Regions from separate parts of the Homo sapiens genome. Here regions 1, 2 and 3 are each linked to region 4. Evidence: fine-mapped expression QTL. A gene starts in region 4. Each other region holds a variant in brackets. All regions are shown on one strand. Distances are from middle to middle.

Region 1 (8,113 bases), 550 kb before region 4:
GGGCCAGGGGAACGAGGACAGGCTCACCCAAGAGCTCAGCATGAGAGGCTGCAACACGGGGAAGCCACAGAGCCGTGACCAAGGCAAACTGAGATGAAGGGTAGGTCACGGTGGCAACCTCACAATGGTTTACCAGGAAAATGAAATTCTGTTTGGAATTTAAACAGGGAAACCCTGAGCATACAAAGTAGCTTCCTACAGATGAAACAGCCCTGGAAAATGAAGGACAACCCAAGGGGGATGGAAGGAGAAAGGGGGAGAGGGAGGGAGAGAGAGAGAGAGAGAGAGAGAGGAGAGAATGCCCAGCCAGCTGCAGTGAAGCAGTGTGCCAGGCGCGTGAAGGACGCCATCTTGGATGTTCCAGCCTCAAGACACCATGACAAGGTGGCAGCAGATATTATGACGTGACCCACAGAGACACTCATGACTGGAGAGGATAAGTGGCTTGCTTGGGGGTCTCTAGATTCTTGGATTCTACTCCAGGTATCCCTAAAGTCACCTGTTTCTGCCAAATACCACTTTATGAGAGGAGGTTTGCTATGGTCTGTCCTTTGTCAGAGCGTGTGTGTGTGTGTGTGTATACAGAGAGATTTAAGGAATTGGCTCAGCCATTGTAGGGGCTGGCAAGTCCAAAATTTGTAGGGCAAGCCAGCAGGCTAGGAAGTCAGGCAGGAGCTGATGCTGCGGTCTTGAGGCAGAATTCCTTCCTCTCCAGGAAACTCTAGTTTTTGTTCTTAAGGCCTCTTCAACGCATGGGATGAGGCTGACCCACATTATCAAGGGTCACCTCCTTTATGTAAGGTCAACTGATGATAGATGTTAACCACATCTACAAAATACGTTCACAGCAACACTTACAGTTGCTTTGATTAACTGGCTACTGCCGTCCAGCCAGGTGGACACTTAAGACCACATCAGAACTCTTTTGTCCGGGGCTGAAACTAACCCAGGAGGTTTGCCACACATCAGACATCCAGGGAGTCCTCACTCCCCTCTCCAGCTAGTGACACTGCACTCAGGCCACTGTACAACCTGGAGGAGCAGAGGTTTCCTCGTGTGTGGGAGACAAATAGGGCAGAACAACTCTAGCTTGTTTGGGTACAAAGGCTTATTGGCCTACAGGTTCCCTATTTTTTTGAGCCATCATCAATGAAACAGTAGATGTTTAAATAATTCTGAAAAGGCAGATTGCCAAAAAGTGTGGTGGCAGAAGTTCCCAAACAGACTTTAAAAAGTTAAGTAAAATATTAAAAAGTAATTAGAGATGGAACTAAAAAGCAAAAATGAAAATCCATTAAACCAACAAAGAGTTCTGTGGACATGAAACAAAGTCCAATAACATAAAAGAATCCAGAGCAGAAGATAATGAAATCTGTAAGAAATTTAAACGATCAAATCTTTGCATGAAAGAATAATCTTAAAATTGATTAAAAAATAATTTCTTTAAATACTAGGAAGCAATCTTCAAGCACCAAGGGTGGTTTTCAAGTAAGAAAAAGACTTTTCCATTTATAAAATACAGTTTATATACTAACTACTTTGAATAAAGATTTGATGAAAGTGCATATGAAACTAGGTAGTTAAAGTAAAGATGGATTTTTAATAGTCCAGAAAGCTTTTGGAAGGCAGGAGAATAAAACGAAAATTTAACTGAACGTGTGAGGGCAAAATTTGGCTTTGAGCATCCTGGAAACCAGAGCAAAAGTAGAGCCTAAGAAGCTCACAATTCCTGCTTTGGAGCATGAGTCTGCAAAAAGGCAGTATCACCCCCTGAAAACTGGTACTTGGGAAACAAACAAACAAAAAATCTTATTTTTTTAATGTAAAAAAGCATAGGTATACATAAAGTACATAATAGATATGCAGTATATAGTCTAAGTGATACACAGTATGGCTGTACTATTAAAATTTCATCATAAGAGTGATGGAGGGAAAAAAATGTCTAAAAAGGCTCCTTGAAAGGTAATTGTGAAAACAAAAAAAAAGGTTAAGAAATAGTGTTTCTGTGTAGAAGGGATATGTCCCCGCATGTACAGAGGCAAACCTTCCCCTGGATCCACATTCCAGAAGGAATGCATGTAGCAGGCACTGTGCGCAGAGGCCGGTTTGTCTCTGATTATTGTGTTGCAGCCCATCCACGGATTTACAAGCTGAGGAAATGTTGCATCTGCATGAAACGTTTGAGAAGTTTACTCACTGGTGAATATATTAGCATATTTGTAATTCATATTAATAAATAGGAAATGTCTGCAACCTTTTGGCTGTCTTCACTTTTCTTTAACTCTGTTCTGTGTTCTCTGCAAACCTCCCAGCTCTAGAGATCCCCGACGGATATAAGGTCCTTGGGGGGTTGTGGGGCGGGGATTCCAGCCAGGGTTGTGCAGCGCGAGGATTAACCCGGTAGATGGGGGAAGAGCAGGAGCCCACACGTCATTCCACAAGAAAACCATCATTTATCACAGGGCCAGGCACTATTCTTTCTGTGTTTTTATTTTTTTATAAATACAATTATATTTTATATCATTTTATAAATTTTATAATTTTTATTTTTTATAAATACAATTATATTTATAAAAATAAATACTTTTATTTTATTTTTATAGATGGAGATAGAGACGGAGACAGATTTCTCGCTCTTGTCGCCCAGGCTGGAGTGCAATGGTGCAATCTCAGCTACTGCAACCTCTGCCTCCCAGGTTCAAACAATTCTCCTGCCTCAGCCTACCGGATGGCAGGCGCTTGCCACCATGCCCGGCCAATTTTTGTATTTTTAGTAGAGATGGGGTTTCACCGTGTTGGCCAGGCTGGTCTTGAACTCCTGACCTCAGCTGATCCGCCCGCCTCAGCCTCCCAAAGTGCTGGGATTACAGGTGTGAGCCACTGCGCCCGGCCTATTCTTTCCGTTTCTGGTGGCCGCTTATACAATGTGAGGCACAGACTGCCCAAAAACAACCTGTCCCCAGGCTGGGCTCTCCGTGGTCGCCTACATGGGTGTGCCCATTCGATGATTTCTAGGGTTGTGGATAATATTCAGTTTCTCACACACTCGACAGAAGATGAATATTTATCTTGGTGCAACAGTTGAAACAGTAAAGATTCTTGAAGAAAAAAATCCCACATTCACACAGGCCTACAGTTTCTCAGGGGTGGACTGGATATTTACAAGCATGAATACGCTGGGGACAGCACCTGAGTAGGAGGAAGAGCCTCCCAGCTTCCTGGGCTCCACAGCAGCCTCCTTCTAGGCCGGGTTAGATGGGCAGAGGGCACATCCTTATGGCTTCCACACGTCTGGCAGGAGCAGAGGTGAGAGCCCCGTCCATTGAGAAGAGAACCCCCTGCCTTCCTTGTTTCTTGCCACCCCAGATCCAGCCAGATAGGCCCTGGAGAAAGCTCTCCATGTCCAGACCTCTACAGCTAAATCACACACCCATTAACCAAAGCCCTTTCTTAAATTAGCAGCTGAAAAGAGGCCCACATGATCTGCAGCCCCACAGCCCTCTGGCTTTGGTGATGGGGAAGCACTCAGCTGGTCTCTGCTTAGCTCCTGTCTATCAGGACATGCAGCCATGCACGGGACACGGGCACTTCCCATCTGGGCTCCAGATCAGACA[C/T]AATTAACAGAGAGGATTAAAAACAATGTTGGAGGAAGAGGTGCATATATAAATGTGTGTCACCAAGCACTTTAACATAGCAGAACAGAAACAGCAGCGTCTGTATTTTACAATCAAGGATGAAAACATAATTGGTCAGACACTGTGAGTCTTTTAAAATAACATTTTATTTTTCGTTGTCAATGATTAACTTTTAAGTCTATTAGAAGAGTATCATGATTATAGTGAATAAAAAAATATAGATGAGAGAATACAAATATTAGGTTATACAAAGTTAGTTTTTTAAAAATCATTGTCCACCAAAATTTTCAGGACTTTGGAGTTCTCAAAAAAAAAATGTGTGTGTGTGTGTGTGTGTGTTTTAACACTTCCAGCAGTTAAAAATTAAGAACACATATGGATAATCATTGGTGGACGCCTATTATAATAAACGGAAGGACCACAAAAATTAAAACAAGTTCTAAGAACCATCATATATACAAATTTCTGTACAGAATGAGGACAAAAACAATTCACCCAATTAAAACCAGCTCTTGTGGTACACATACTCTTTTTCAGAAAAGAACGAACACTTATCTTCCTGTATTCATTTGTTTTTCCATTTGATTCAGTATTCTTAATGCTGTTTCCACCCCATAAATTAGTAACTGTTCAATAGCTGAGAAATATCCTATTTTCAATTATGCAGGGGAAATCAGGAGCTTCCCTGGAGGGGTTGAACTTCATGGTCTGATGTAGGTTGGAGACACACCTCAACCAACGAAGTCACACCACCGGCTGGAACAAGGAGGGGCTGGATACAACATCCCATGACAGTGAGGAGGATTCTTATACATCATCACTACACAGCTTCCTAAGAGTGATGGCCTAGCCTCTCCTACTTGGCTGAGCTCAGAGCAATTGAGCTCTTTGCAAATGCAAGTCATTTGGCACAAAAAGAAAGAATGTTTGGGCAAGACTCAGACTCTCTCAGAGCCAGACACACTCAGAGGCCCCCAACTCTGATAACTACGATAGCACATCCCGGACCCATATCTACCTCCCAGACCCACCTTGCTCCATGACGCTAAAGGCCACTCACTCCATGGTGAGAACTGAACTCCTTTGAAGAAAAAGCAGTCGCACGAAATGTTAACATCACAGGCCCAATGAGGTAAACAGCAGACTCAGGGGACACAGAAGGAGAGGGCATGGAGATGGGGAGGGGCAGCACACTCTTTCCAGAGAGGCTTGCGACGTCACTGCACGATCCCGGAGTCCACCGATGCCTGCTTGCGAGTTGTCTTTGGAGGGGGAGGAGGCGGAGTTTTGCTGGGCAGTGGAGGTGGCAGATGCTAAAAAACATGAGGATGGGGAAGATGTCACATAACTGATGTCCTGACAGAAAAGACACCGTCTCCAGGTGGGGTCTGACCTGGCACAGCCACTCAGCCGGAACCATCCTCCCCACATGAGTTGGGCTCCATCCTGTCCGACTTGGGGCTGGCAGGTCTACTAGGCTCAAGACTGGGCTGCTATGGGCCTGGGCCTTTCTGACGCCTCTGAGCACTCTCCCACCGTCTGCACAGCCCCTGAGAGGTACCATTGCCCTTTGCGTGGCCTTTTTAAATCTAGATGCTATCGACCAAGTTATCCATCTATTGTCTAAGGGATAAATAAGTCCTTAGAGGCACTCTCCAGGGGTGAGATGAGAGACCTTCTTTTGCTTTCTGAGCTTCGGGCAAAGGTTAGCAAGCTTCTCCTGGAAAGGGCTAGACAGTACATATTTCCAGCTTTTTGGCAGGCCACACGGTCTCTGTTGCAGCCACTCAATGCCACTGGTGTGGCCGAAAAGCGGTCATTGACAGTGTGTACAGAAAGGGGTGTGGCTGTGTTCCAAGAAAACTATTCACAGAAACAGGTGGCTGGCTGGCTGGCTTCAGCTCATGGGCATATATTACTTTAGATTCCAAAAAAGAACATTAATTTCCAATGTGAAGATAATAGCAAACCCCTTGCTGATGGACCTGGCTGGAGTGTTATGACTGAGGGCAGCTGCACCCTATTGCTTTTGGGACCCTCATGCCCATCACACACACCTGATGTGCAGGAGACTCTCTAGAAATATGGGTCAATCGAATAGAAAAATGGATGAATGAGTGAATAAATGAATGAGTGAATAAACGAGTCAGTGGATAAATGAAGAAATGAACAGGTAAGTAAACAAATGAATGAAGAAGTGAACAGACCAGGGTAAGTGGGAGCATGCCACAGGCAGAAGAACCAGAATGAAATCACAGAACACTATCGTCTAACTTAAGGGTAAGAGTGGATTTTTATCAGCCTCTCAGTGTGGGTTTGCATTTAGCTGAATGTGAGAAAAGAGGTTTTCAAGGATAGACAGTGACGCAGTAGTCTCTCACTCATCGCCCAGATTTCCTCCTGATTCACAGACTAGTAAATACAAAAATGACCTAATGCTTAACACAGAGAGGAGAATAAATGTGGAAAAGTAAAGCTGATATAAAGATGTCCTATGAGTGTATGACCTTATATTAAGGAAGGTAAAACAACAATTAAGTCTTTTTAAGGTTGGTTAGAACCGTTAAAAGAGACATCTATTTTGAGGTCTGATGAAACTGTTTGTTTACATGTGAAAGCCACACTCACTGATAGGCCAATGAGGAGCAGGTAAGGACCACACTAACACAGCCTGATACCAACACAGCGCTGCAAATGACCTCTATGCCAAGTATGAGCATGTCAAAAGTTTATCACCATTAAGCAAAATGATTAATGGTGATAAACTCAGTAAGCTCAGATTACTGACAGGAAGAGCCATTTGGAAAGAAATGACAGCTTAGTGGCAACAACTAAAGACAGAGTTGCCTACAAGCCTGAGGCTGATCAATGAGAGTGACAGGAGGATATTGATCACACCCCCATCATGGCAGATGGATGATCATTATCCTAGAACAGCTCTCAGGGCCTGTGCAAAGGGAGGCACCCCAGGAAATGCAACCGCTTCTGCCTAATGATGACATACTAACCACCAGCGTGTCACCTGAGCATGCACTCAGGCTGCAAGTAAATTAAACAAGAAACAAAGACCAAAGACACCTGGGTCATTAATCTAATTGAATTCACACGCCCTTTATCAATTGAGAGAGAGCTAATCCATGTTATCCCTTACTTAATCAACTGTATGTGGCATCAGTAACCCACAATGGTGTATCCAAGAAATTGAGACAATAAAATGTTACCCCGGAGTTGATTTGTAACAAGAAGAGGAATTGGCTGTAATTCTAAGTTTAGAATTTTCAGTTTACTAGTGTAGGGAGACTAGGGGGAACATTCCTGCCTTTGCAATAAAATAGAGAGAAGAGAATGTGACCAATTAACGAAGCTGTTAGGGAAACAATACTCCAAGCAACCCAATATTCTTGTTAGACCCCCCCGAATCTCCTTTTACTCTCACAAGTAGTTAGAAATGGCCGGGGAAGGTCCGGCTTCCATTTCTGTGGTGCAACAAACCATTCCAGCCTGCCAGAAAGCCCTCTTCACAGGGGAACCTGGTGCCTCCTCCAGGACCGGTTCCCCATCGAGGCGTCTCTAGGGAGAGGGAGCCTGTTTAAATGGCACTTGGGTCTCAGAAGAGCAATCTGCCTCTTTGATATTAAAGATGACTGCTTGTTTAGTTTTCTGATACAAAGGGAATGATGAAATACGTATGCTGTACACAAACACCCTCTCTCTTCCACTCCTCTCATAAGGGATGTAATGACCTTGTGGAACACTCCGTCAACGAGTCTCCATTAAAAAAAAAGAAAAAGAAATGGCACGTGGGATTTATATTGTTTATTAAAGAAAAATAAAAAAAAAAACCATGTCTCACCATTATGAAAAAAACAGAGCCACCCAACAATCTCATGTTTTCAATGTTCTACAGGAGTTTTGCGGCCATATAATTACTTCACTAAGGCTGGATAGCAAAAAAAATACGGCCAGCTGTCCACATATGAAGAGGGATATTTTACCCTTCAGACACCACTGATTTAATTGTCAAAGGCTGTGAATAACATGGCCTGGGGAGGCCTGAGCCTAGAAGCAGAAGTTCCCGCCGTGGCTGAGTCAATCGCTCGCCCGCCTCCATCCCACTCATGCTGCCCTCCACACATGCCTGGGCCCGACATGAGGATGGGGCTGGGACCCGCAGGGATGAGTGACGCCTGACAGCATCCTTGAGAACCAGGAGAGGAACGGGGTGGATCTCAAAAGAATGTTTCTAGAACTGTCAACTGGTAACTGAGGTGCTTGTTTAAATGGCTTTTCATGACTTTGACTAATATTTGTACGGGCAGGCAGGCCCAGGGGCTGTTTGGCACAAGGCACTTTGGGTGGCATGAATGACTAAAACAGCTGCTGGGGGGTACCAGCTTCAGGGACTCACGCTGAAGAGGGGTTCCAGCAGGTTGCTTAGGCTTACAAAGGCCAGTGCTGCTGGAGGAAGCCAGGTCAGC
Region 2 (8,113 bases), 510 kb before region 4:
CGATTACAAAGGGCTCATGGGCAGAGGGTGATTAAGAGGATCACGGCCTGTTTAGGTGGAGGGCCTGCTCTTCTGTTGTCTCTCACATGTACAATGCCTCACTAGCTACAAAGGGACCCAGCAAAGGGAGTGCATTTTTACCACCTGACACATAACTCCCACAGCCTTCTATCTGTCAGGCACTGCCTGGCTGCTAGGGGCACAGAAAGGGAACTCCAGAGCAGAAAGTGACCCCAGGAGGGGTAGGTGAAGAGCCCTGGGTGCTTTGAGTATAAAGCAGTGGCTCTGACTGCGGGCAACCTCTCAGAGAGTGGCCCATAGCTGCCCATAGCTCATGCTGGTGTGGGCAAAGGAGAAGGCTCGGCGCTGGACACGCAGCTGGGCAGAGAGATGCCGGCCCCTAGAGACAAATAATCAGGTGTTTCGGGGGGACTCATTGAAAACTAAATGGCAAGTGCCACCCCCTCAGTGAGTTCTTGCCAGGTGAAAACAAAAGGCACTGAGACACATGAACAAAAACGTACAGATTTCAATCAGATGTTTTTATATTGCCAGTTGCCTTGGCCCTGACATTTCAATACTGTCAATAAATCTGCAGCCCAACTCTGGTTCATGTAAATGAAACTGTCCAATAGCTCACTGCAAATGTGAGTTTCACGTAAATGAAACTGCCCCATCTCAAAGCAAAGTTTAGCTTTGTTGAGAGCTGGAAATCGTTATTTCTTTAAAAAGGGTCAGGGAGGGGTATGTTCTCAGGCTATTTTTACTTGAAATGGGCAAGGACTATTAATTAATAGTTGTTTGTCATGTAAATGGCAATAAAACCATCAGGAAAAAAATCTTTAAAAAAGTTTATGTAGACTGGAATTTGTCTTCAACTTTTCACTTGGTTAACACAAAGCATTGTCAAAACAGCACAGCTATGACTGAATTTAAATACATTGTAAGAAGAAATGAAATCTTCATTCTGGTTTTTTGATAAGCTAGAGTTGGTCGTGATTACACAGCATTTCCACTAAAATATGGCTAGGCGAGGAGATATCGATGCTCTCAAGAACAGGTGGGGTGGTTATGGGAACTGTAGAGTCTGCTGTGTGCACGCTGCCACAGTGACCACGGGGCATGAGCAGGTGAAGAAGGCGTGGCAGACTGTATTGAGGAAGGGAACGGACAATTCCTTCTGGGGTGGGGCCATCCTTACCATGAAAACAGACTTGACCTCAAACCACCTTAAAATTCCAGGTAATTTATATGCAGTTGTATATATGGTTCTCTCGATCCACATATTCTGCAAAGGAAACACACACACACAACACGGGTTAGAAGGATGTCAGCAGGTGGACAGCTCTGCCCTAAGGGGGATTTATAGAATAACTCCAAAGGAGTCAGGTCCTTCAGCAGGACAGGGTCTGTGGTGCTCAGCACAGGGCATGTGTGCCTTCAGGTAGCACCTCACAAGCCACGCTCTACCTAACGGTCGCTCAGGATACATCAAAGTATCCCCTGTCCCCTAGCCAACATTGCCCACCACTCTGGTATTTGACAATGAAAGTATACTAGGTGAGTGAGAAAGATGTGTATACTCCAAAATGAGGTATGGGGAGCCCCTCTTGAGCAAACAGATTTTGAGGAAGGCTCCAAAGAAGTCTTACATTAGCTACAGTGTTCATAAGAAACTAAAAGGGGCAAATACATCTTTGGGAGACTGGATTTAATCAAAGTGACCTCTGATGTTCTGATAAAACCAGTCGGTATTTTAAACTTTAAAATGTTTTGACGTAACTAATATATGTTTATATGAGAACATAAAGATATGGAAAGAGCAGGAGGAAAAACCATCCCCTACCTGAAGCTGATAACCTATATGCTTTAGTATCTATTGTTCAAGACTTCTTACTAAGTATTAAAAAGTGTGTCTATGCATATTTTAAATAAAAACATCATTTGACAATGTGTTCTTTGTAAAACAGTATATTACCTATTGCAGGAAACTGTTCTAACCCAATAAATACAATTCTACTACTCTTTAAGGATTGCACAAAAACTCCAATGCAGGGGTCAACTGGAAATCCTTTATCCTACTGCCTCGTTCGTACTGTCTAGCTTGCAACAATCTTCTGCCATTCCAACCTCCCTGCACTGCAGGGTCACTGAGCAGTCTGAGTGTCAACAGGAATCTAGACTTAAGCAGATGGGATAATGGAATGCCAGTCATTCCAGAAAACTGGGACAAGCGTGGGGGGCTCACGTCTGTAATCCCAGCACTTTGGGAGGCCAGGGCGGGCAGATTGCCTGAGCTCAGGACTTCGAGACCAGGCCGGGCAACGTGGCAAAATCCCGTCTCTACTAAAAATACAAAAATTAGCCAGATGTGGTGGCATGTGCCTATAGTCTCAGCTACTCAGGAGGCTGAGGCATGAGAATCGCTTGAACTCGGGAGGCGGAGGTTGCAGGGAGCTGACATTACACCACTGCACTTCAGCCTAGGCAACAGAGCAAGACTCTCTCTCAAAAAAAAAAAATTTTCAGAAAACTGACTTGGATCTTGGAAAGCATTTATCCCAAACTTCTTACGTTCCATAGGAGGAAAGGGAAGGAGCTGGCTGAAGCCATAAGGACACAGGCAAGGCCTCCGTGTCCCACACCAGTCCTCTTTGCCCCATGGGGACGGCTCCCTCAGGTTTTTGTCCTGGCAATGGAAACAGGTCTGGCCCTCTCACATCCACCTCTAGACCAGATTCCAGTGCTTTCTCTCATGTCAACATGCCCTGAGACGGACCTCTGGGTTCCATCCTGGGCTTTACGGCCAGCTCCTCCTCACGCAGGCCCTGTCTCATCTTCCTCCTCGTCAGTGCCCTCACTCCCCAGCACATCAGTCACCCCTTGCCAGGTCTGCAGGGATGAGCCACCTCGCACTGCTCTCGGCCTGGTGGGCAGCTTCCCCAGCCCCCTGCACTTGGAGCCAGGCTCCCCGCTGGAGGGGCCGAGGCTGGCTTCCCAGTAGAGCAAAAGACGTTGCACTTATCTAAGGCTTTGTGGGGCATGTGAAGGACCAAATCCTGCAGCTTCCGAACACTTTGTCCAAGTGCCCGGACCTCAACAGGGCCATTAGGGGATTTCAGGGCCATTTAGAAGAAGCATAGCCTCTGAGGCTCAGCATAGCTCAAAATGTCAAGAGCCTTCGTTATTCTTAGCTCTGCACCCAACTGGCCGCGCACCCTCCAGTGGCTCACTTGACCTCCTTGTGTCTATTTCTTTATAGTCTAAGAATATATCTACTTGCCAGATGGGAGAGGTGTGAGGGAAATTCAAGAACTGCCTATAAATCCCACAGTTGAGGGACTCCATATAAACACTAGCGTTAGTGCTTATGATGACAGTAACAGGTGCAGTCTGCTCTGAAAGCCACTGCCCTTAGCGAGGGTGTCCAGGTTGGACGTGCCTAGGTTCTGCCCGCACTGTTGCAGACAATGGACACTGTAGTGACCAGTCCTGGAGGAGGTCCAGGGTGCTGGGTTCACCAACAAATAGGGTGAACATAATCTTCAAACAACCAGCCTGCTGGGACTGCACAATACTGCAGATTTCACCAACTCCAAGCTC[C/G]TTTGTGCTCCTTGGTGACACACAAGGAATCTGGCCTCGGGGCTGGAAGGAACTTCCCCATGGCTCTTAAGAGCTGAGCTAGGAGACTCACAGGTACTGCCCTGAGGATCCCATGACTGGCAGACCCCTGAGGGATTGGGAGGGAGACTGGGTAGCCACCACTCTTTACTTGAGGCAACCCTGCTGGAAGGGTTCCGAGCTTTGCTCTGGTCAGGAGTAGGGTGTTAATTCACCTTTGACCTTTGCAGCCTAGATGCCTTCGGACGGCACACAAGAGAAGCCATTCTCAGCAGAGCCGGTCCTCCTTGGGGGTCCCCGGGCTAATGCCTCCTTGCAATACAGGAGTACAGAAGGATTTCCGGAGGTTTCCCAGGCAAGACGGATAAACATTAACATTTTAAAAAAATTATGGCTTATTTGATGCCTTTTCAACATGGATCCACTCACTTGAGCCCAGGAGTTCAAGACCAGCCTGAGCAACATAGACCCCACCTCTATATAAAAAAATAAATAAAATAAAAATACAAATGAATCCATGAAAGCAGTTTGTATGTAGAATTTTTAAAAGGCTCTAGGGCCAGGCGCGGTGGCTCACGCCTGTAATCCCAGCACTTTGGGAGGCTGAGGCGGGGGGATCACGAGGTCAGGAGATCGAGACCATTCTGGCTAACACCGTGAAACCCCGTCTCTACTAAAAATACAAAAAATTAGCCGGGCGTAGTGGCGGGCACCTGTAGTCCCAGCTACTTGGGAGGGTGAGGCAGGAGAATGGCGTGAACCTGGGAGGCGGAGCTTGCAGTGAGCTGAGATCATGGCACTGCATTCCAGCTTGGGCGACAGAGCGAGGCTCTGTCTCAAAAAAAATAAACAAATAAAAATAAAAAAATAAAGAAAAAAGGCTCTAAAGATGTTTGCTGTTATTTCTACAACTCGAATGCCGTGGTTTGCAACAAGGGGCAGATGTTTTATTTTGCAATGTCTGGAAACTTTATTTTTTTGATGGAGTTTCACTCTCGTTCCCCAGGCTGGAGTGCAATGGAGCGATCTTGGCTCACTGCAACCTCTGCCTCCTGGGTTCAAGCGATTCTCCCGCCTCAGCCTCCCAAATAGCTGGGATTACAGGCGTGCACCACCACGCCCGGCTAATGTTGTACTTTTAGTAGAGACAGTGTTTTACCATGTTGGTCAGGCTGGTCTCGAACTCCTGAACTAATTTGATCTACCTGCCTCAGCCTCCCAAAGTGTTGGGATTACAGGTGTGAGCCACCATGCCTGGCCTGGAAATCTTTTTGATTGGTTGTCCCAACTGGGGTGGTGGCACTGGCACCTAGTAGGCAGTGTTCAGGGATGCTGCCAAACATCCCTGGATGCACTGGATGGTCCCCACCACAGAGAATAACCCGGTCCGTATTGCTAGTAGTGCTGGGGTCAACCCTGCAGTTGTGTGTTGTGCTCCACTGAAGTTCAGGTGCTGGATACTGAATGAGGAATGAGCACCCGGGTCCAGATCCAGTTCATGTGCTGACTGCTGTGTCACCTGCAGAAAGCCACGTCAGCACCCCGCACCTCAGCACTCGGTGGGTCCATTTTTAACTAGAGATGACAGGCACCTGCTCTCTCACCTGGGGCTCGCAGGGAAGGCAGTGCGCTACTCATATGGGAGCTCCGGCATTTGGACGGCACAGTCTCCTTATTAAATATCTCAGTGACCTTAGTCATATTGTTAGTGAAATGGCAATTAGTTTTTCTAACTTTGGAGGGGGTAATAGATTAAGATTTCTGCACATAATACACAAAGACATTTAATATGGCTCCGTGGCTGCCTCTGAGGCCACGCTTCTCCAGTGGCAGTTCTACTGGTGGCGGAATGATATTTTTTGTTGTTTGGTTTGGTGGTTTGTTTGTTTTTTACCGCAAATTCATTGTCTGGGTTTTTCTCTCCCTTCCGGATTGGCCGAGAATATTCAAATCGCTGGACCTCGTTCACCCTGTAAAAACTGTACAGAGACAGACAGATCATTAGATATTTAACCCGGCAAATAGCCAATTTGCTTTTGGACACGGGGTCTGGCCTTAGAACATGTCACTGCCTCCTGTAAAATGTCCCTAACCTTGACCTGAAGCCATCGCCTTGGTGTCCTCTCCCAGCCAGGGAAATGTTGGCAGGTGGAAAAATTAACTTGAGTTTTTGCCTCTTCCCTGTCCCTGCCAACCCTCGAGGGAAAACAGAAGCTGAGTAAGAGTGAAATGAGCAAAAACAGAGGAAAGGTGAAGCGAAGGAGAGAGAAAAAAGCTTTTGTGTTCAACGTATGTGTTTATTATTATTTTAAAAAAGTATTACATACCTTAGTTTCAGATCTACAAAGCACAGATTTTGCAACCACCCCAAGAGTGACACACAGGAAACATAAGTAACCTGCCTCCGCGGTCGGGGTACGAGGCAGGCTTTCCGCATGCACAGGGCAGGGCGTGGAGAGACTGAGACTGATTTCTCCCCTGCACTGAAATGCAGGCAGGCTTCCACAGCAAAAGAAACTACTGCATCTGAGAAGGCTCTAAGCGTCACTATTTGCTTAAGGCCTCTGAAAAAAAATGTTGCAACCCTTAAAATGTATGCCTTGCGAGAGCAATCATTTGTAAATAAACAGGGTCCCAGTTTATTTCCCATTATTGCTGATGCAAGGTCAAAGAAACGATGAAAGGTTAAAGAAACCACCAAACTTCAGGAAGCAAAATGAAGCTGATCCTAAGGAATATGAGGTCATCAAAGAGATTAATATTTTCACCAGAACATGGATCAAACAGAACAGAAAAGTCTTAATATCAAACACATCTGCTAAAGCAGGTCTTTCTATGCCATTGCTAAGTCAGGTGCGATACAACTGACAGGCAGAAAATCTCACTCAAATATGGACAGTTGACTCAGGAGGTTTAAAAGCCCCCTCATAACCCTACATTATGGAATTGCTGTGCTGTAAGGCTGAAGGGTTCTCCTGTGTGTCACCAGGAGCAAATGTGCAAATCCCATTTCCCGCCTTCTAAAATGCAAACATTCAGGCCACACTCACATGTATGAACTTGGCTTTGCTGGGAACAGGCAGGACTTGTGCACTGCTGTGAAGTTCCCTAGGGGATTGTACCCCACAGGGCAGGTCTATAAAGGAGACCAGACGGCCTCCACTGCCCTCTTAGGTTTTTGCTGTCAGCTGACTTTGGGAAAGGAATAGGCTTTGCACGCTCCCAGCACATGGATTAACATCTCCTGTCACTTTTTTTGGATGCTGAAAATAATTAGCTTCCCTTGCTCTTCAAAGAGGACAGAAAGAGCATTTGGAAAGCGAATCCATGGCCAAAGTCCGTCCTTTAAAAGGTGGAATTATTAGCAAGAGATCTGTACACAGCCTCTTACAACCCTCACGTTGGGTAAGAAAAATGGGATTATTACCTTACAATCTGCTCTGACACTGGCCTGTGAAACTTAGGAGGCAGATCGAGTTTGGGCTTCACTGTGAAGCACTGAATATCTGAGGTGAGGGGGTTAAGGATCACTAAGGCAGCATAGACATCAACCATGAGAGAGGCCCCCCACCACACCCAACCACCCAAATGAATGGCATCACCATGGTTTCAGAGTTGATGAGGTTGTCTTAAAGGATACACTGGCCAGGAGAGTTTTTAATATCGTCGCCTGGTGGAGATGTTGTCTTCATTTTCTCGGCGTTTGGAAACTGAGTTAAGAGCCGAGCCTCAAAATCTTCCCGGCGCTCATACTCTTTCCCTCGGTAAATGAAAACTTTTCCCTGAAAAGGGTGACATTCATTTCATAACACCACAGAGAAAGGGCCAGGAAGAGTTCACATGCAATATGCTGGCCTTAAAATATGCCTTACGGGTTCTTACAAAATGTCATTAAATTTAAGAACAACTTGTAATTTTTATTTTTTTTTGTACTTGCGTTGGCTTTGTTAATCAAGAACACATGGTCATCAAGCATGTAAGTTAATACTGTTTAAGAAGCACTCAGCACTGCGCTACTAACATCTGTGATATGTTTTCATCTTGACAGTAACAACTGATTTAAAAACTATATGAAAAACCAAATGAGCACTCAGAAGCCCACACTAGAATGGGCATGAAATGGTTAGAAGGGGGCAAGGCAGCCAGGACAAGTGGATAATGATGTCCACACTTTTTCTTGTTTTTGTTTTCTTCTCAGGTAGGCCCTAATGAAGTTGTTTTCATTCTGCCATAAGGAATTTAAGAGAGCTTGAGCTAAGGTGGGGCCCCAGCACCTGCACACGGCCGCCGGGCGCTGACTCCTGTGAGACACAGCCGAGGCGAGCAGAACCCGAGGGGAAGGGATGCAGACCAGAGCCGAGAGCTACTAAGTTCCTGGCCTCCCCCGAGTGAGTGACTGGCGATGGACGGAGAGCAGGACTTCCCTTCCTGCATTCAGAATGTGTGTGCAGGTCATTATTCATCAACACATGTCAAGATAAAACATACAGAG
Region 3 (8,113 bases), 330 kb before region 4:
AGAGCACTGCCAAGTGCAACACTCAACCAACATTCAATGAGTGTGCAGTGTGTTGACATCATTGAGTTCCCAAGAGTAGGTCAGCAGGAGATAAAAACAGCCCCTGACCAGAATGACCTCAGTGGGAGGCTGGGTCACGTCTTTCTTCTAGGCTAGTGGGGCCATGTCAAAAGGACACAGGAGGTGGTGTGGGGAGGCTCCCCTGGCCACGTGTGGGATGCTTGAGACAATCTGAATATCAAAATGAACGATGACAACAAACAAATGTAGCAAATTGAATGAGAAAAAAATCCATGTGTCTACACAGACATATAGGCGACGTGGCAGGGTTGAGGGCAAAAGTAAAGCTGTGACCTACGGAAGACTATGAGCCAAAAAAACACGGAATGAAGAAGAGAACTTGATAACTGAAGGTTTCAACTCCTAAAGGAATGGTTGGTCCAGAGGAGGCTCCTCAATGGGCACTGAAACCTCGAGGTAAAAGGTCTTTGGGGACGAAGACACTCACTCAATCTGAAAACAACACCCTATAGATTCTTCCTAATTATAGTATGGGCCTTTAGGTAGAATGCTAAGCACACAGGATCACTTAAGTAGTTACTTTTTTTGCCAAAAATGTTCCATCATGAGGAAATGAATAGACAGATTCAGAGTATACAGCATTTGACAAGACAAATGGTGGGGACCCTTAAGGTCAAAGGGAAAACCTCACAGGGAAGAGATCTTACATTCTATTCGGGAATCATTGTTCATTTTCATAGGCATCATAATATTCCTGTGCCTACAGAGCAGTTATTCATAGGAGTTGCATGAAGCGAGGAATGATGTGTCCCTGTGTCTGTGACCAACTTTTTGGTATGTCAGAAAAGAAAGTTTACACATGCAGGGATAATGCAGACATGGCAAAATGTTAATATGTAGTGAATTTAGGTGGGTACGTGTGTTTAACACTAATACTGATTCAACATTTTTGTACATATGAAACATCTCAAAAAGCCAAAGGAAAACAGCTTCTACTCACAATCTAGTGAGAAGACTTATATGACAACAATTAATTAAGACACAATGTTACAAATATTATAAAAGGGAGTTATTACAGACTGCCAGGGAATTCTAAAAAGGAGGTATTTCTTTTCCAATCAAAGGAACTATTACTGAATACAATAATAGAACTACAACCAATGATTTAGGTATTTTAACTTGGGCAAAAGGGAGTAGTACAGAGATTTAAGCAGCAGGAATAATCACTCAGAAAAGTATCTGAGGAGCTAAAATATAACTAGAGGGCTTTGTTGCTTTTGCACATAAAGCTCCACCATATGCATGCTTCTTAAGTACGGGAATGGCTTATTTATTTGGACTGTCCACTGTAGAGGTGTATTCAGGTCTTAACAAAATACAGTGGAAGTTGTAAGAAAGAGTACAAATATCTTGCTTCCCTGCCAAATATGGATCCCAACATCACCCTCGCTCTTTTCATTAGTTTATAATACTCTTTGTCTTTTTTTTTTTTTTTCCTGAGATGGAGTTTTGCTCTTGTTACCCAGGGTGGAGTGCAATGGTGTGGTCTCGGCCCACTGCAACCTCTGCCTCCCGAGTTCAAGTGCTTCTCCTGCCTCAGCCTCCCAAGTAGCTGGGATTACAGGCACCCGTCACCATACCCGGCTAATTTTTCATATTTTTAGTAGAGACAGGGTTTCCCCATGTTGGCCAGGCTGGTCTCAAACTCCAGACCTCAGGTGATCTGCCCGCCTCGGCCTCCCAAAGTGCTGGGATTACAGGCGAGAGTCACCGCGCCCGGCCAATATTTTTTGGTCTTAAGGCAAAAGTTATATAGATAAATGATACAAAATTAGTTTAGGAGTCAAGAGTAAAGGTTTCAAAGGCAGACAATTTGGAATAATCACTTGACCAAGGGTACGTTTGCTGTATAAATTTTAACAGGCTATTTAACCTTTCTGAGCCTCGTTTTCCTCATCTGTAAAACTCGGATCATGATTCTAAAATCTGGAATTCTTGAAAAGTTTAATTAGATATGTATTTAAGGATATTTGCACAGTGGCTGGCTACATAAATGAATGGTGGTGATGATGATGGTGATGAAGAATAAAACACAAAACCATATACAGAAGAATATTTTAAAGTCACAAAATTGTATACTGAAACACACAAAACATTGACACGGGAGTCAAATAAGACCTAAAAATTGGAGGAATATACCATATTCATGGAATGGAAGACTCAATATGGTTAAGACTTATTATAAAACTACAGATATCAAGACAGTGTGGTACTGGAAAGGACAGACAGACAAATAAAACAAACTGGCTGCACACATAGGGTTAACTGATTTCAAAAAAAAAAAAAAAAAAAAAAAAACCCGTGTCAAGAAGGATCAATGTGCAAACTGTACTTTCAACAAATGGTGCCGAAACAGTTGGATACCCAAATACCAAGGAAGGAAGGGAAGGAAGGAGGATGGGAGGGAGGGAAGTAGGGAGGGAGCAAAGGAGGGAGGGAAGGAGAGAGGGAAGGAGGGGAGGGGAGAGGGGGAGGGAGGGAGAAAGAAAGGAGCCATACCTTAAACCGTATACAAAAATTGACTCAAAATGTATCATAGATTTAAATGCAAAACTTAAAACAACAAAACTTTTTAAAGAAAACATAGAAAACTTTTGTGACCTAGGCATAGGAATATATTTCTTAGGATACAAAAAGCATGAAACATAAAATTTTAAAATTGATAAATTGAACTTAAATCAAAATTAAAAATTTTTGGTCTTTGAATGACACTATACAGAAAGTAAAAAGACAGACTGCAGAACTGGAGAAAATATTTTTAAAAACACCTATCTGACAAAGGGTTTCCATCCGCAGTATATGACAAACTCTCAAAAACCAATAAGAAGAAAATAACCCACCAAAAATTGGCAAAAAATGTGAGCAGATATTTAATCAAAAAAGGAACACAAATGGCCAAGATGCACATGAAAGCATGGTCTATCTTACTAGTCAATAGGAACACGCAAGTTAAAACCACACTGAAATATAACTATATACCTATTAGAATGGCTAAAATTAAAAAAAAAAACAACCACCACAAAGATGCAGAACAATGGAAACTCATGTTGCTGGTCTGAAGGCAAAATGGTAAAGCCATTTTAGGAAATAGTTTGGCAGCTTCATATACAGCTGATAATATACTCACCTCATGACCCAACCACGCTGCTTCTAAGAATTCACCCAAGAGAAATGAAAAGATATGCCCACACAGAGACTTCTATACAAGTATTTATAGAGCTTTCTTCATAATTGCCACACATAGGGGACACTCCAAACACCTACTACCTACTAAATAAACAAATAAATTATGGCATATCTGCATGATGAATAGTACTCAGCAAGAATGAGGAACAAACTACTGGTAAATAAACATGAGTGAATCTCCAACACATCATGCTAAGCAAAATAAGCCAGATACAGAAGGCTAGACACTGTATGAATCCATTTTTAATGTCGTTCTAGAAAAGGCAGTACTAGAGTGACAAAGAAGAGAGAACTGACTATGGAGGGGCATGAGAAATATTTTTACGGAAATGGAAATATTCTAAATCTTGTATTTGGTAGTGGCTACACAACTGTATTGTCTGTCAAAATTTAGAAGGAAGAAGAATGGATGTTACTATATAAAATATAAAGTATATCATTTATAATGTATAAAATATACGTATTTTATACTTTATAAAGTATACAAAGTATATAATGTTTAAAGTATACATATATAAAGTATTCTATACATACAAAGTATATAAAGTATACTTTATATAGATTTATGTATAAGTATATATGCTTTATACAGTATATATACTTATATGTATTTATTATATATGTATAAAATGTACATATATTATTTACTTTTTATGTATAAAATCCATATACTTTATATGTATAAAATATAAAGTATATATTTTATATATTTTAAAATAAAGAAGAAAATCTGAAAATCACCATGTCCTATAAGCCATATGTAATTAATGTTGTATTTGAAAGGATTCCTTCTTGCTCTTACACTTATATAGAAACAGAGTACTTTCAATTTAATTAATACTTTATTGTAGCTTTCAAATGGTTTTGCTATTCAGTATTGCAAGGCCTACTTCACATTACCCTTGTTTTTCACATTTTTCTTGAGTATTCCTGCCAATTTATTCTTTTGCATGTACTTTAGAAACACATTATTGAGTCTGAAACAAGGTCCTATTGGGATTCAAATTGGA[A/G]TTCCATTGAATTTTTAAATTAATTGAAGAGGCTTACAATATCAGCCTTCCCACTTAGACATGCAAACTGTCTCTCCATTTGTTCAAGTCTATTTTTATGCCATTTCAGGAATGTTTTGTGGTTTTCATCATACGGATCTTTAACAGCTCCTTTTATTTTTGTGTCTTTTGGAGGGAGTGCTTTTTTAAATAACCCTTTGAACATTTTGTGTATTTTTATTTGTATATTAGGGTAAACTATTGAATTTGATGTGTACATTTTGCAATTGAACCTACAGAATTCTCCTATTACTTCCAAACTATTTTTCCCCCACTTTGGAGAGGGTTTCTAAATACATCAAGCCAACATCTGTCAATATTTTTGTGTTGTCTTTTCTAATCACTGTAGGTCTTAATTCTGCTTCTAGACTTACTCCTCAGGCCGCACTATCACGGTAATGTCAAATTATAATAATGACAGCAAGCGCCTGTTTTCTTAAGTGATTTTAATGGGCACGCTTTTAGTGTCTAATTTTTAACTATTATTTTGAATGTTGGTTTAATATACTGTATGTATCATGTCAAGGAAGTATTCCTAACCTCAGGATCAGCTATAACAAAGTGCCTCAAGTTATGGTTATGGATATTATTGGTTAACAAACATGGTATGGAAATTATTATAAAACAAGAGTTCTATTATTGAAGAACAAGTAGATCAACAATAAAATGGAGCAGCCGAAATCACATCGTATGGATGCTGTTACATTTTTACTAAGAAGGGAAGAATGGTACCTTCAAAACACAACTTATATGTAAGGTCAAACTATAATAAAATTAAACTTAGAAGATCAACATTTTTTATAATTCTTATTTCCTAGAAAGGGAATGTAGCCACAGTATTTATCCGTTCGCTGAAACCTTTGCGAAGGCACACTGTGTTTTGGACATTGTTCTAGAAGCCCGCATATAACTCACATTCTATTGGGAGTGCTCTGACAGAGAACTTACTGGCAGCTGAATTTAAACATTAGCTTCACTTGTCAGAGTTGACATTAATTAGTATCTTAATAAGACCATCTGGTACCTGGAGTAAGTTAATAGTTATGCACTTGGCAAGTATACATTGTAGATGTTTCACATCACATTTTGTGGGGGAAAAAAATCTCTTGAATGTCTGCTCATTGAGAAAAATAATCAAGGGGATATCAATGTAAATATATAGCTTTGTTTGTAGCTATATATTTGTTTGTTGTAGCATGTCCACTGTTATGTAGACAAAATTCATATTTCCAACTTCTAAGTTATGTTTATACGGACATAATGAAAATATGAGAAGAGGCCATTTCATCAATCTTATCAAAATTTAGAGCTTGCACTTCCTAATTACCAAATAAACACTTAGCATTGATCATACTGGTGACTACCATAATTCTAATTAGGGAATACAAAACATTGGTTTATAGAGATTAATCTCCTTGAACAAAATTCAAATATTTTAATGATATTTTTTCACTTATGACAATCAGGGACATTTCAGTTATTTGCCTCATACATAAAATTAAAAAGGGACCATGCCAAATCAAATCAAATCCCCTTAACCTAAACCAAAAACTCTAATCACCAGTCACATGGTGAAGAGCCAAATTGAAAGTCACTTTGCAACAGATGTTTAGTCAAGATTTTTTATTTTTTATTAATCTTGCTTAGATGAGATCTTAACAGCATGCAGTGGGAGGTAAATCCGCAAAGTAGTACTATAATGACTAATTTTACTTTCCAGAATCACAACTTGTTTGTAAAACTGAGTATGTTTTTCACAAGCTAATTATCTGGCTACACAGTTAAAAGTTGTCAAATGCAATGCTCCTATTTCCTGTTTAAATAAGAAGCACATGAGATCATGAAATGAAGTCCACTTGTTTTGAATTTCAACCCACTGTGTTGGTGTCATGAAGGGGCAAAAAGCAGAAATCTAGGTTGATTGGTTAAATGGAAACAGGGTCAACAGGAGGCATTTGTTCGAAAGAATCAGAAACCTCAGACACTACTACGTGGTAAATATGGTAGGAATATCACCATTATTTAGTATAAAATCATTATCACAAATAAAAACAATAACTGCAGTACGAATGTGGACCAAGGCGCAGACCTATAAGGCCATGATGAGTGCCCCAGCCCCACATCACCTCCCGGACTCTGCCTCTGTTGCTCACATTGCTCCAGCCACAGTATCCAGCAAGGGATCCTGGAATTTGCTGTATGGAAAACAAGAGACTTTGTACAGCACCCTCTCTAAATATACAAGACATTCAAAAGAGAAACCTGCATACATTTTGATATTAGGAAATCATTCCGGGGATTCTTCCACTCCTGAAATGAGTTGACTTGCAGATAACTCACAACTTCTTAAGCTAAATGGTATTTTCATTTTTCTCAAGCTCTTCCAATACATATGACCACCAAGATGCAGAACTAAAAGGTCTGCACCCTTCAGGATTGTACTCTACCTGTACCCTCTACGGAACGCTTCTCTGCCAGCTGACCACCTGGCTCACTTCCTTCCCTCCTTTTCTGCCTTCTCCATGCACCAATCAGGTTGACACAAATTGCATAAATTGTTTATGTCTCTCCTCACTAGAATATGAACTCCATGTGTGCAGGGACCTTGGTTTTGCTTGTTGAAGGACCCCTAGCAGACAGCCTTTACCTAGGTGACACACGAACTGTCTCTCCATTTGTTCAAGTCTGTCTGAAAAAATGGAGTTTATTTGAACAAATGAAGATGTCTGAGCGAATGCACTCAGTCTTCTATTTGTTTGAAAGAACATTAAAAGGCAAAGAAAAGAAGAAAGCCTAACACAAACAAGAAGGAAGGGAAAACATTTATTCCAACAAAAGCCTTGAGTCTAAATAAGGGGACAATGATTCTATCAATTAATGAGTGAATGTGCTTCTGACAAAGTTATAGATGTCATTTCTAGTATTTTTAAAGATCCCCAAGCCTCTAGCTAAATGGCACTCTTCCAAAGAAATGTGTTTAGCCAGGCATGGTGGTGTGTGCCTGAAGTCCCAGCTGCTGGGGAGGCTGAGGAAGAAGAATTGCTTGAGCCTAGGAAGTGGAGGCTGCAGTGATCCATGATTGTGCCACTGCACTCCAACCTGGGCAACAGAGAGAGACCTCACCTCAAAATAAAAAAAAAAGAATAAGAAAAAGAAATTCATGCACTGAATATTCTTTTTTACAATACACTTAAAATATACATTGTAAGACACTGACTACACCAACATTTTCTTGTATCGAATAGTACTGAATTCGTATTTTCAAAATAACTTTGTGGTGGGGCTTGTGGAGAGGGCATTTAAATGTTAAAAAAAAAAAAAAGCCTTGGATTCAGTCTACCCATTCGCTAAAGAGAGTTTGATCTCCATGTGATCATTTTCAAAGCAAACTTTAACCCTGCTCTGATAGAAAAGAATTACCAGATGAGTCTTAAAACAAAAATTTCTGGTTGTTTAATGAAAGTTGCATTAATAAAAGTAATCAAACGTGTGATAAAATATGCTTCAAAAAATAAAAGACTTAGGAATAATTAAACCAAGAAAGAGAGAGATCTGTACACTGAAAACTATAAAACATTGATGAAACTGAAGATGATAAAAATAAATGGAAGATACCTTATGTTCATGGATTAGAAGAATTAACATTGCTATAATATCCATATTACCCAAAGTTATCTACAGATCCAACGCAAGTCCTATTCAAAATTCCAATGACATTTTTCACTAAAATTAAAAGAACAATTCTAAGATGGGTTTGGAACCACCAAAAACAAACAAAAAAACAAAAAAACAAAAAA
Region 4 (8,113 bases):
GCTCCCTGAGGCCTCTCTCTGGTCCTTGCAAGTGAGCCCCTACATCTCAGGGCCAGCAACTGTGCTTCCAAACATAGGATCTTCTGACTGCCTGTTTCACAACTTTGACAGCCAAAGTTCTCTGTGCCCACGTGGATGGTCCTGAATAATCTCCCATCTACGAATTCCAAGTAACCTGAATCACATCTGCCAAGTCCCTTTTGCCATGTAACATATTGAATTCACAGAGTCTGGGGATTAGGGCGTGGACCTTTTTGGGGACCATTATTCTGCCTTCAACACCATTGTTGAGATGTGAGTGAGTGAGCACATGGTCCTCACGTGTGATTCTAGAACATACTGCATCTTTTCACCTAATCTTAGGAACAGGATCCATGGCAACATAATTTTATTGACGTCGGGACATAAAACTGCCTACTGGGCTGTGAGAGAAAAGATCATCTGGCCAGTGTGACAGCTGAGTCAAGGTTTATGCCTGTTAATATGCCAGGCCCGTAAACATGACCCACCAACTCAAAACCAAGGGGGAAACGCGGGCTGGTAAATTTCACAGGCAGCCCCCAGTGGAATGAATTGGGAGGAACCAGCATTTCCTGCCTTTGCAGAAGGAACCCCAGATCAGCTGTTTACTCCTTTCCCAATTTTACAAAATAAATATACAACTGAAGTATCTCATTTACAAACAATGCTTCTAACAGATTCCAAGTACTTGCAAACAATAAGCTGTGATTCATGTTTCCAAATGAGATGGAGTTTTATCATTTTCTTACCCCTCGTGATTCGTTCATGGGCCAAGTGGCCAGAGTGGAAGTGTGGTCCACCCACAGAGCCACCAGAGCGCCTCCAGGGAAACACAGCCCTGTTGTTAAGCTCCGAAAAATGCTGGAGTTGGTAAGGATGGTGGAGGGGTCCTCCAGTAATTTTCCCTTAGGTGGAAACAGCCAATCACCTACTGGCAATAAATCCCTACATCCCAGCACCTACATCCTTCCCAGTCAGCATCCTTCGTGAGAACCACTAAAATCCTCCCACTGCACACTTGCAGACAAGTGGGGAGCCTGGGATGGCCCCATTGCGCTCATGCTCAGCTCCCCTCCCACCCTCCCTGATGGGGGACTCTGGTTAAAGTGCCTCTGGATGCCGATGGAGTGGTGCTGTCTCATTACTGTCTACCCAGCAAGCTGTCATCTGCACCCAGTGAGAGGAAGCACAGCAGCCACTCTCTTCTCTACCTTCAGCCCTTCACATCTTTCCTAGCATTTCCTGGCAAAACCATCCCAGATACTTTTCGCCTTTTAAAATTTTCCAACAGTTTTCTATTTTTTCTTTTTTTAACTTTTTTAAATTTATTTTTTCTTAATAATCAAACATGGAGTTTTCTTAAAACCAAAGTATTAGCAAGAGGTGTGATGTTAGAAGTCACCACCATGAGCGCTGGTGAAGCTTCTGGAAGGTGTGAGACTCAAGCGCACCGCCCTGTTCTGGCCCTCAGCCTCCTCCCCAGCAAGGAGACCCCGTTCTCCCATCTACGAACATTCTTTTCAGTCTTCTCCAGACCATCCAGCTACACTATAGGATCCTAACTGACACCATCCAGGTCTCTCTGGGGGCAGACGAAGGGTAACAAGGTCTCTTAAAATGTGGCGTCCCAAAGAGAAGCCCTCCCCATCTGCAGGCAAGCACAGGACACTGTGGCAGCTGAACCCAGGGCGGCCACACTTCACACCCAGGAGGCACCACTTACTGGTGATGTGACCTCAGGCAAGCAATCCACCTCTTCCTTGCCTCTGTAGAATGGGAGCAGTGATGGCCCCCACTGCACCCCGATGGCCCCCACTACACCCCCAATGGCCACTACTGCACCCTGGCCATGGGCACCTAAGTTGCTTCCTCAGCAGGGCCAGGGCTATGGGATGCCTGCTCCTCTGCCAGCCTCCTGCCTCTCCTGCCTATCCACCTCTTCCTCTCTCTCTGCGTGTGCTGGTGCTAGGTTCCCTGGGAGTCAGTCCTCAGCTCTCTCCTCTACACACTACCCCCGCAGGGACCCCCACTGTCGCCACAACCCAAGCATTCTCAGGTGGAATATCCACCCCGAACCTCTCGCCTCTGATGCAGACTGAAGGCCCGTGCCAAGTGCCCCAGACTGAATCCATTAGGTGGTGCACAGGGTGCAGGTTACACACTGAGTCTGCAGTCAGATGAGCTCTCCTGCACTTTTGTGAATGTGTCTGGGCCTCAGTTTCCTCATCTGCAAAATGGGGAGATGGGGAGGAAGCTCAGTCATAATGGTCCTGAAGCAAGGAGGCCCCCTATGCCTCCCAGCATGTGGAACAAGCTAAGTGCAGGCCCGGTAGGACCCAGGGCTGTCCCAGGACTGTCCCCGTGACCACTGTCCAGCTGGCTCCGTGGTCAGGGCATACTGTAAGTCATTGACAGCAGAGAGAAGCAACTGTTCACAGAAAGGAGAGCGCTCCGGGGACAAGGGCTGCCAGGGCGCTTCCCAAAAGTCAGAGAGCCAGGATTCGAACCACACCAGCAGAGGGTCGGGCAGGTCCAGCACGGGCCAGGCACAGAATGGGCGCGGGGCTGCTGCTGAGACGGTGCCCTTGGAGGACACAGCCTGGGCTGTGGGAGGCGAGACCACCAAAGGTCTTCCCAGTCGGGTCGAGTGGCCTGGATGAGGCAGGCGGTCAAGGATGTCTGTGGATGGTGGGACGGGGAATAGCAAGCCCGAAAACCAACTGGGAAGATCCCGGACCCGGGAGAGCAGGAGAGTAGCCACGGCCCAGTCCCGACACCAGGCGCGCAGATCACGAAGAGGTGGGCGTCCGCAGGCCTCGGCGACCGGCTGCGGGTCCCCGGGGCGCAAGGATGCGGGTCCCACGCGGACGGGCCCGTCTATTCAGCCGCAAGGGAAAGCCTCCCTCTCAGGAATGCGCACTCGGGTCCGAAATGTAAACTTGCAACCCGACTCCTTCCATCCCCCCTCGGAAGCGACAAAGAGCCGCGGAGCAAAAACAGGCCCCCGCTCTCCCGGAAGGGTCTCCAGGCCTGGGGCCACTGGGGCGCTCGGCCGCTCGCCTTCTCTCCAAGGTCCCACACGGTCCCCAGCGAGACCGCCGAGGGGCAAGGGGCGCTGGCCACCCAGGTCGCGCCCCCTCCTCCCCGCCGGGAAAGGGCGGAATTATCCGCTGGGACCGCGCCGACCTGAGCCCGCCCACCCAGAGCCCGGACGCGGGACGCAAGTTCATCCAAGAAGCAGAAGCCGCCGCGAGACAGTGACCCCTGGGCTTCCCTGACGGGCCCAGCCGCGCAGATAGCAGCGGCCGGGGCCGGGGAGTTGGGGGTAGCCCGGGGGGCTCCACGGCAGAGGTCCAGAGGAGCGGGCGTCGGAGGGGACACCCTAGGGAGGGACGCGCCCGCCCCCATTCCCACCCCACCCCCTCGTGTTCCCGACCCGCATCCCCGGGGCTGGAGCTGACGCCGCCGGGGGCGCGGGGCGGCCGGGGTCGCCGGGCATTGCGAGCGGGGCGGCGGCGCGGGCGCGGGCGGAAGCGCCTCTCCCCGGCCCGGCGGCCGCTCGGGGCGGCGGCAACAGGCGCCCGGCACACCCGCCCCGCCGGAGCCTGGGCTTGGGGCGAGAGGCGCGGCGGCGGCGGCGCTGCTCACCCACGCCGTACTTCTCCTCGCGCTTGGTGGGCACCCAGCGCGTCATGGCGCCGCCGGAGCCGCCGCGGGTCGGGCAGGAAACTCCGCGTCTAGGCCGCCATTTTCCATTCCTTTCGAGCCGCGACAGGATGGGGAGGAAAAAGTTTGCGGCGGAGGCGGCGTCATGTGGGACGGGGCGGGCGGAGCGTCGCGGGCCGGATGGGAAAGGCCGGGAGCGCCGGCGGGAGGCGGGACGGCCGCGGGCTCTGCGCCCGCCCTCGGCGCGGACCCTGGGCCCCGACCCCGCGGTCGCCGGGGCTCCCCTTCCTCTGTCCCAGTGCGCCCAGCCCCGCGCTCCGCACCCGGGCACCCCCGCGGGGTTCTCCTGAGTTCCTGGAGCTCCCGGGGCTGGCGCTCACGCCGTGAGAGGGGTGCGCCCTTAGGGGGGCGGGACGGACGGGGGGTTTCTACGGGAGGTAGGAAACGGGCGGCTTGCAAGGCGCGGGCTTAGGCCGGAGCCTGGTGGTGCGAGGTCCCCAGCTCGGATTTCTCCCTGGTGGAGAGTCCCGGAGCAGAACAAACCAGCAGAGGCTCTGGAAAGGGTCCTCCTGAGCACGTGGCTCATTCATTCATTCGACAAACGTTACCTGAGCGCCTGCCCACTCATTGCCCGAGTGTGCTGGGAGCGCCGCACCAACTGCCTGGTAGGTGGGAGAAGGGACACGTCAGGTAACAAACAGCACAGGTAAGTGCCGGCCACTCAAATGGGGTGGAAAGAGGTGGCACAGCGCTGCCGAGGGAGTGCGTTCCAGACAGGTGACCTCTTGCTTGGGTGCTGAATGAGTGGAGTTTTCCAGAGAGACCAAGAGGAAGCAGCCGCAGAAACCTCAGCCCAGCTGGGCTTGCAGAAGCTAATGCTAGAATAGTTGTGGGACTCAGGATCTGCTGAAGTCGGGGGAAGAGAGAAGTAGGGAAAGGAAAGCCCAGGCCACGCGTGGGGCTCAGGAACGGCATCCTCGCCCGAGGTGGGAGTTCTTCTCAGGCCCTGGTGTTTCCCATGACAGTAAAAGGTGGGGGCTTCAGATTTCTCCAAGGGAAAAGTTAAAGCAACACACACCTATTTATTTTTACTGTAATTTCAGAAAAGAGAGGTTAAAACCAAGACATGGACAAAGCCTCCGAATGAAGGCAGCCCTTTAAATGGAATAAATTTGGTTTCATGGCACATTAATGGGGTGTCTTCTCTCCGAAGACACAGAGACAACTACAGTAGGTCTGGGGGCCGTCAGGGATTGGAGGAACGAAGGTAAGAAAAGGAAGAAGGTAAGAAAAAGAGGTCCCTACCTCTGTGAGGTAGGGACAGTGCTGAACAGCAGGGCTGGGAGAGCCCACAGGGAGGTGGCCAGGATGGCCACAGGGCCTGGGGAGGACCAGGTGGGGCACCATCCTGCGGTAGAGAATGCCCGTCACCTGCCCTAGGGGCCACCCAGAATGCAGATTAAATAAGTATTTGGGAATGGCACAGGAGCTTTTCCATTTTCGTGGGTTAGAGGAAAGCTGCTGCGTTCAAGAGGATAACGTGGGACCTGAGCATTCTGGTAAGTCAACCCCACATTCATGGAAAGCCACGGGCTCTGTTTTACTGATAAGGAACTGAAGTCCCACAGAGGAAGTGGCCAGGCTCACTCACACACAGCATGCACTTGAAGCTTTCTGTGGAAATCAGAAACCTCCGGGGCTCAGGCGCTGTAGTGGTGGCCTGGTGACTCTGACCCCTTGAAGGAGAAGCATCTGTGAAGGTGCTGTCCAGGACAAGTAGGGTGCTCTACGGTAAAGGACATGGTGGCCTGACCTGCTCCAGAGCAGGGAGGCCTCCCTTGAGGAAATAAGATAAACCCAGACTTTAAGGATAAGCAGAAACCAGCTAGGTGAACTGGAGTGGGAACAGCACGTGAAAAGGCCCTGGTTTAGGAAGGAGCACCACTCCTTCAGAGCACAGAAAGGCCAGGATGGCCGAAGCATAGGGAACAACAGGAAAGTGACATAAATTGAGGCTGCAGAGGTAGAAGAAGGGCCTTATTGGTCGTGCTAGGAATTTGGAATTCTGCAAAGAAGCCTGGGAAACAGATTTTGGTGACACTCGCCTTCTCTTTAATGTGCAGTTTCAGTTCTGTTGGTGTGATTCTGCATTGGAGATGGCGTGCTGTAACGAATGGCCAGGAGCTTAAGAGTCATGCAGACTTGGGAGGCCTGGCCTTGCCACGCCCAGCTGCATGGCCATCCTCCTCCTGTTTCTGGCCGTTCTGTTTCTAAACCTTGGGGTTCTGATATTCCTACATGTAAACTAGGGGCTGTAATAGGAATCTCACAGGTGAGTCTTAGGATTATAAGAGGAGACATGACTGCATGTGTAAGACATCATAATGATGTGCTTCCTCATCTGACCCTACCTCCAGGTTCTTTGATAACCTCATGGTTCCCATTTTCTAGAACAGTTGCCACTTGCACTCAGATAAAGGTGACTCACTGAATGCATAAATAAGTGTAGTGCCGGATTTGCATACTTTTGGTAGACTGTCATATAATAAATTTATAAATCAGAATTTTAAAACTCCAGGTGGGGCCGGGCACAGTGGCCCATGCTTGTAATCCCAGCCAGCATTTTGGGAGGCTGAGGCAGGCAGATCACTTGAGGTCAGGAGCTCGAGGTCAGCCTGGCCAACCAGGGTTTTAGTAGAAACCCTGTCTGTACTAAAAATACAAAAATTAGCTGGGCGTGGGTGCGCATACCTGTAGTCCCAGCTACTCAGGAGGCTGAGGCAGGAGAATTGTTTGAACCCAGGAGGTGGAGATTGCAGTGAAGCAAGATCGCACCGCTGCACTCCTGCCTGGGTGACAGAGTGAGACTCCATCTCAAAAACAAACAAAACAAAACTCCAGGTGGACCACGGGCCAGGTGGTTGTAGCTTCAGTCCCTTGATTGCAACATGTGCCCAAGTTTGGCTGAGATGTACCTGTAGCCACGGTCCTTGAAGCCCTGAGAAGATTTGTCAGCATCCCCACGGTGCTCCAGCAGTGCTCTCATCTTGTGGCTCTAAATCGAGTCCATGGCCCTCTCTCACTGTCCTATGGTTGCATAAGCTCAGAACTGGCTTCGTCTCCAATTCCAGGAGCCCTGGAGGTTGTGGCCTGTTGACATTTTTACCTCCTGAGTCAATGTGGCTGGGCCACAGGTCTCAGTTGCCCTCCCAGGCATCTTGCAGGACTTGGATCTGTGCCAAGCTTGTGGGTGTGAACAAGCCCAAGAATGCTGAGGCTCTCAGTTGCTCAGTGCTGCCCATCACTGGGATTTCAGAGTAGTGACCCCCCTCCTCCAAGATACAACAGAATCTTGCTTTGGGGCCATGAAGAACACAATCAATATTACAGTTTTAAATCTTGAAAAGTACAGTTTTAATTTTTTTAATTCCAAAAAATTTCACACATGTGCACTGCAAATTCAGGAGGTAAATTCAGCAAAATCTTGCCTGGTGGAGGTACCAGAAGGCACAGTGAGTCAATGGGGCATGTTTCTCAGTCGGTGGGGAGAGATGAGAATGGAACAGGGATGTGGAGATTTTATGCAGGAAAAGGGGCCTGACCACAGATTTTTTGCCCTTTGAAAGGAGAGGAACAAGGCCTATGCCCACTGCCTCTTGGATTCAGTGGGAGATCTGGGCATCATACTGGATGACCAGGCATGTAGTCACAATGCACAATGCCACCCAGCCCAAAAGTGTATATTCAAGACTTTAGACCCAACTTCGTGCTTACAGGAAATAGAGGAGGTTGAGGAACAAGTGACACCATAAGAAATACAGTGAAACAGGCCAGGCACCGTGGCTCATGCCTGTAACTCTGAGCACTTTGGGAGGCCGAGATGGGCAGATCACCTGAGGTCAGGAGTTCAAGACTAGTCTGGCCAACGTGGTGAAACCCCATCTCTACTAAAAAAAAATATCTGGGCATGGTGGCAGGCACCTGTAATCCCAGCTACTCAAGAGGCTGAGGCATGAGAAGCACTGGAACCCGGGAGGCCGAGGTTGCAGTGAACAGAGATCGTGCCATTGCACTCCAGCCTGGGGGAACAAGAGTGAAACTCCATCTCAAAAAAAAAAAAAAAAGACACTGAAACAAAGCCAGAAGGTAGAATATTCTTTCAGGTAGTAGTCTGGTCTCTTCAATAGTCAATATTATAGAGCAAGAAGGGGCCAGTGGAGAAGAGCTGTTCTAGATTTTAAAAGATGTAAGAAATACAACATTTGGCCGGGCGCGGTGGCTCACGCCTGTCATCCCAGCACTTAGGTAGGCCGAGGTGGGCGGATCATGAGGTCAGGAGATCGAGACCATCCTGGCTAACATGGTGAAACCCCGTCTCTACTAAAAATAGAAAAAATTAGCCGGGCATGGTGGCATGCACCTGTAG

Direction of the effects. Alleles are on the strand shown, and positions count from the first base shown. SD is a standard deviation of normalised expression in the study named. Not every link is listed here.
As copies of T replace C in region 1, the expression in sigmoid colon of the gene that starts at base 3,805 in region 4 goes down (moderate effect, 0.41 SD a copy in GTEx).
For the expression in testis of the gene that starts at base 3,805 in region 4, allele C in region 2 goes with a lower level than allele G (moderate effect, 0.42 SD a copy in GTEx).

What was found. PIP is the estimated chance that this variant, and not a neighbour inherited with it, causes the effect.
Region 1: its variant is the best candidate, but not a certain one, in a credible set for the expression of DOCK1 in sigmoid colon (GTEx, PIP 0.80).
Region 2: its variant is the best candidate, but not a certain one, in a credible set for the expression of DOCK1 in testis (GTEx, PIP 0.79).
Region 3: its variant is the best candidate, but not a certain one, in a credible set for the expression of DOCK1 in lung (TOPMed, PIP 0.71).

Annotation. Positions count from the first base shown.
Region 1 is chr10:127,448,167-127,456,279 of GRCh38, reverse strand. It overlaps DOCK1 (dedicator of cytokinesis 1), which reads right to left. Exons shown (of 52, transcript NM_001290223.2): 52 at 3,764-4,948. The coding sequence ends at 4,853. Among named protein-coding and RNA genes, the nearest start is that of NPS, 97 kb to the left of the region's middle. The variant C/T (reference allele first, on the strand shown) is at 3,615.
Region 2 is chr10:127,408,327-127,416,439 of GRCh38, reverse strand. DOCK1 (dedicator of cytokinesis 1) reads right to left here. Exons shown (of 52, transcript NM_001290223.2): 41 at 7,262-7,403; 42 at 7,049-7,127; 43 at 5,516-5,600; 44 at 1,202-1,288. Among named protein-coding and RNA genes, the nearest start is that of NPS, 140 kb to the left of the region's middle. The variant C/G (reference allele first, on the strand shown) is at 3,604.
Region 3 is chr10:127,230,767-127,238,879 of GRCh38, reverse strand. The region is part of intron 27 of DOCK1 (dedicator of cytokinesis 1); the gene reads right to left. Among named protein-coding and RNA genes, the nearest start is that of INSYN2A, 38 kb to the right of the region's middle. The variant A/G (reference allele first, on the strand shown) is at 4,278.
Region 4 is chr10:126,901,120-126,909,232 of GRCh38, reverse strand. It overlaps DOCK1 (dedicator of cytokinesis 1), which reads right to left and starts at 3,805. Exons shown (of 52, transcript NM_001290223.2): 1 at 3,670-3,805. The coding sequence starts at 3,715. LOC105378550 (a long non-coding RNA gene) reads left to right here and starts at 3,855. Exons shown (of 2, transcript XR_946449.3): 1 at 3,855-4,673; 2 at 4,791-8,113. It overlaps LOC124900289 (a long non-coding RNA gene), which reads right to left and starts at 3,502. Exons shown (of 2, transcript XR_007062336.1): 1 at 1-3,502. RefSeq lists an enhancer at 2,036-2,784.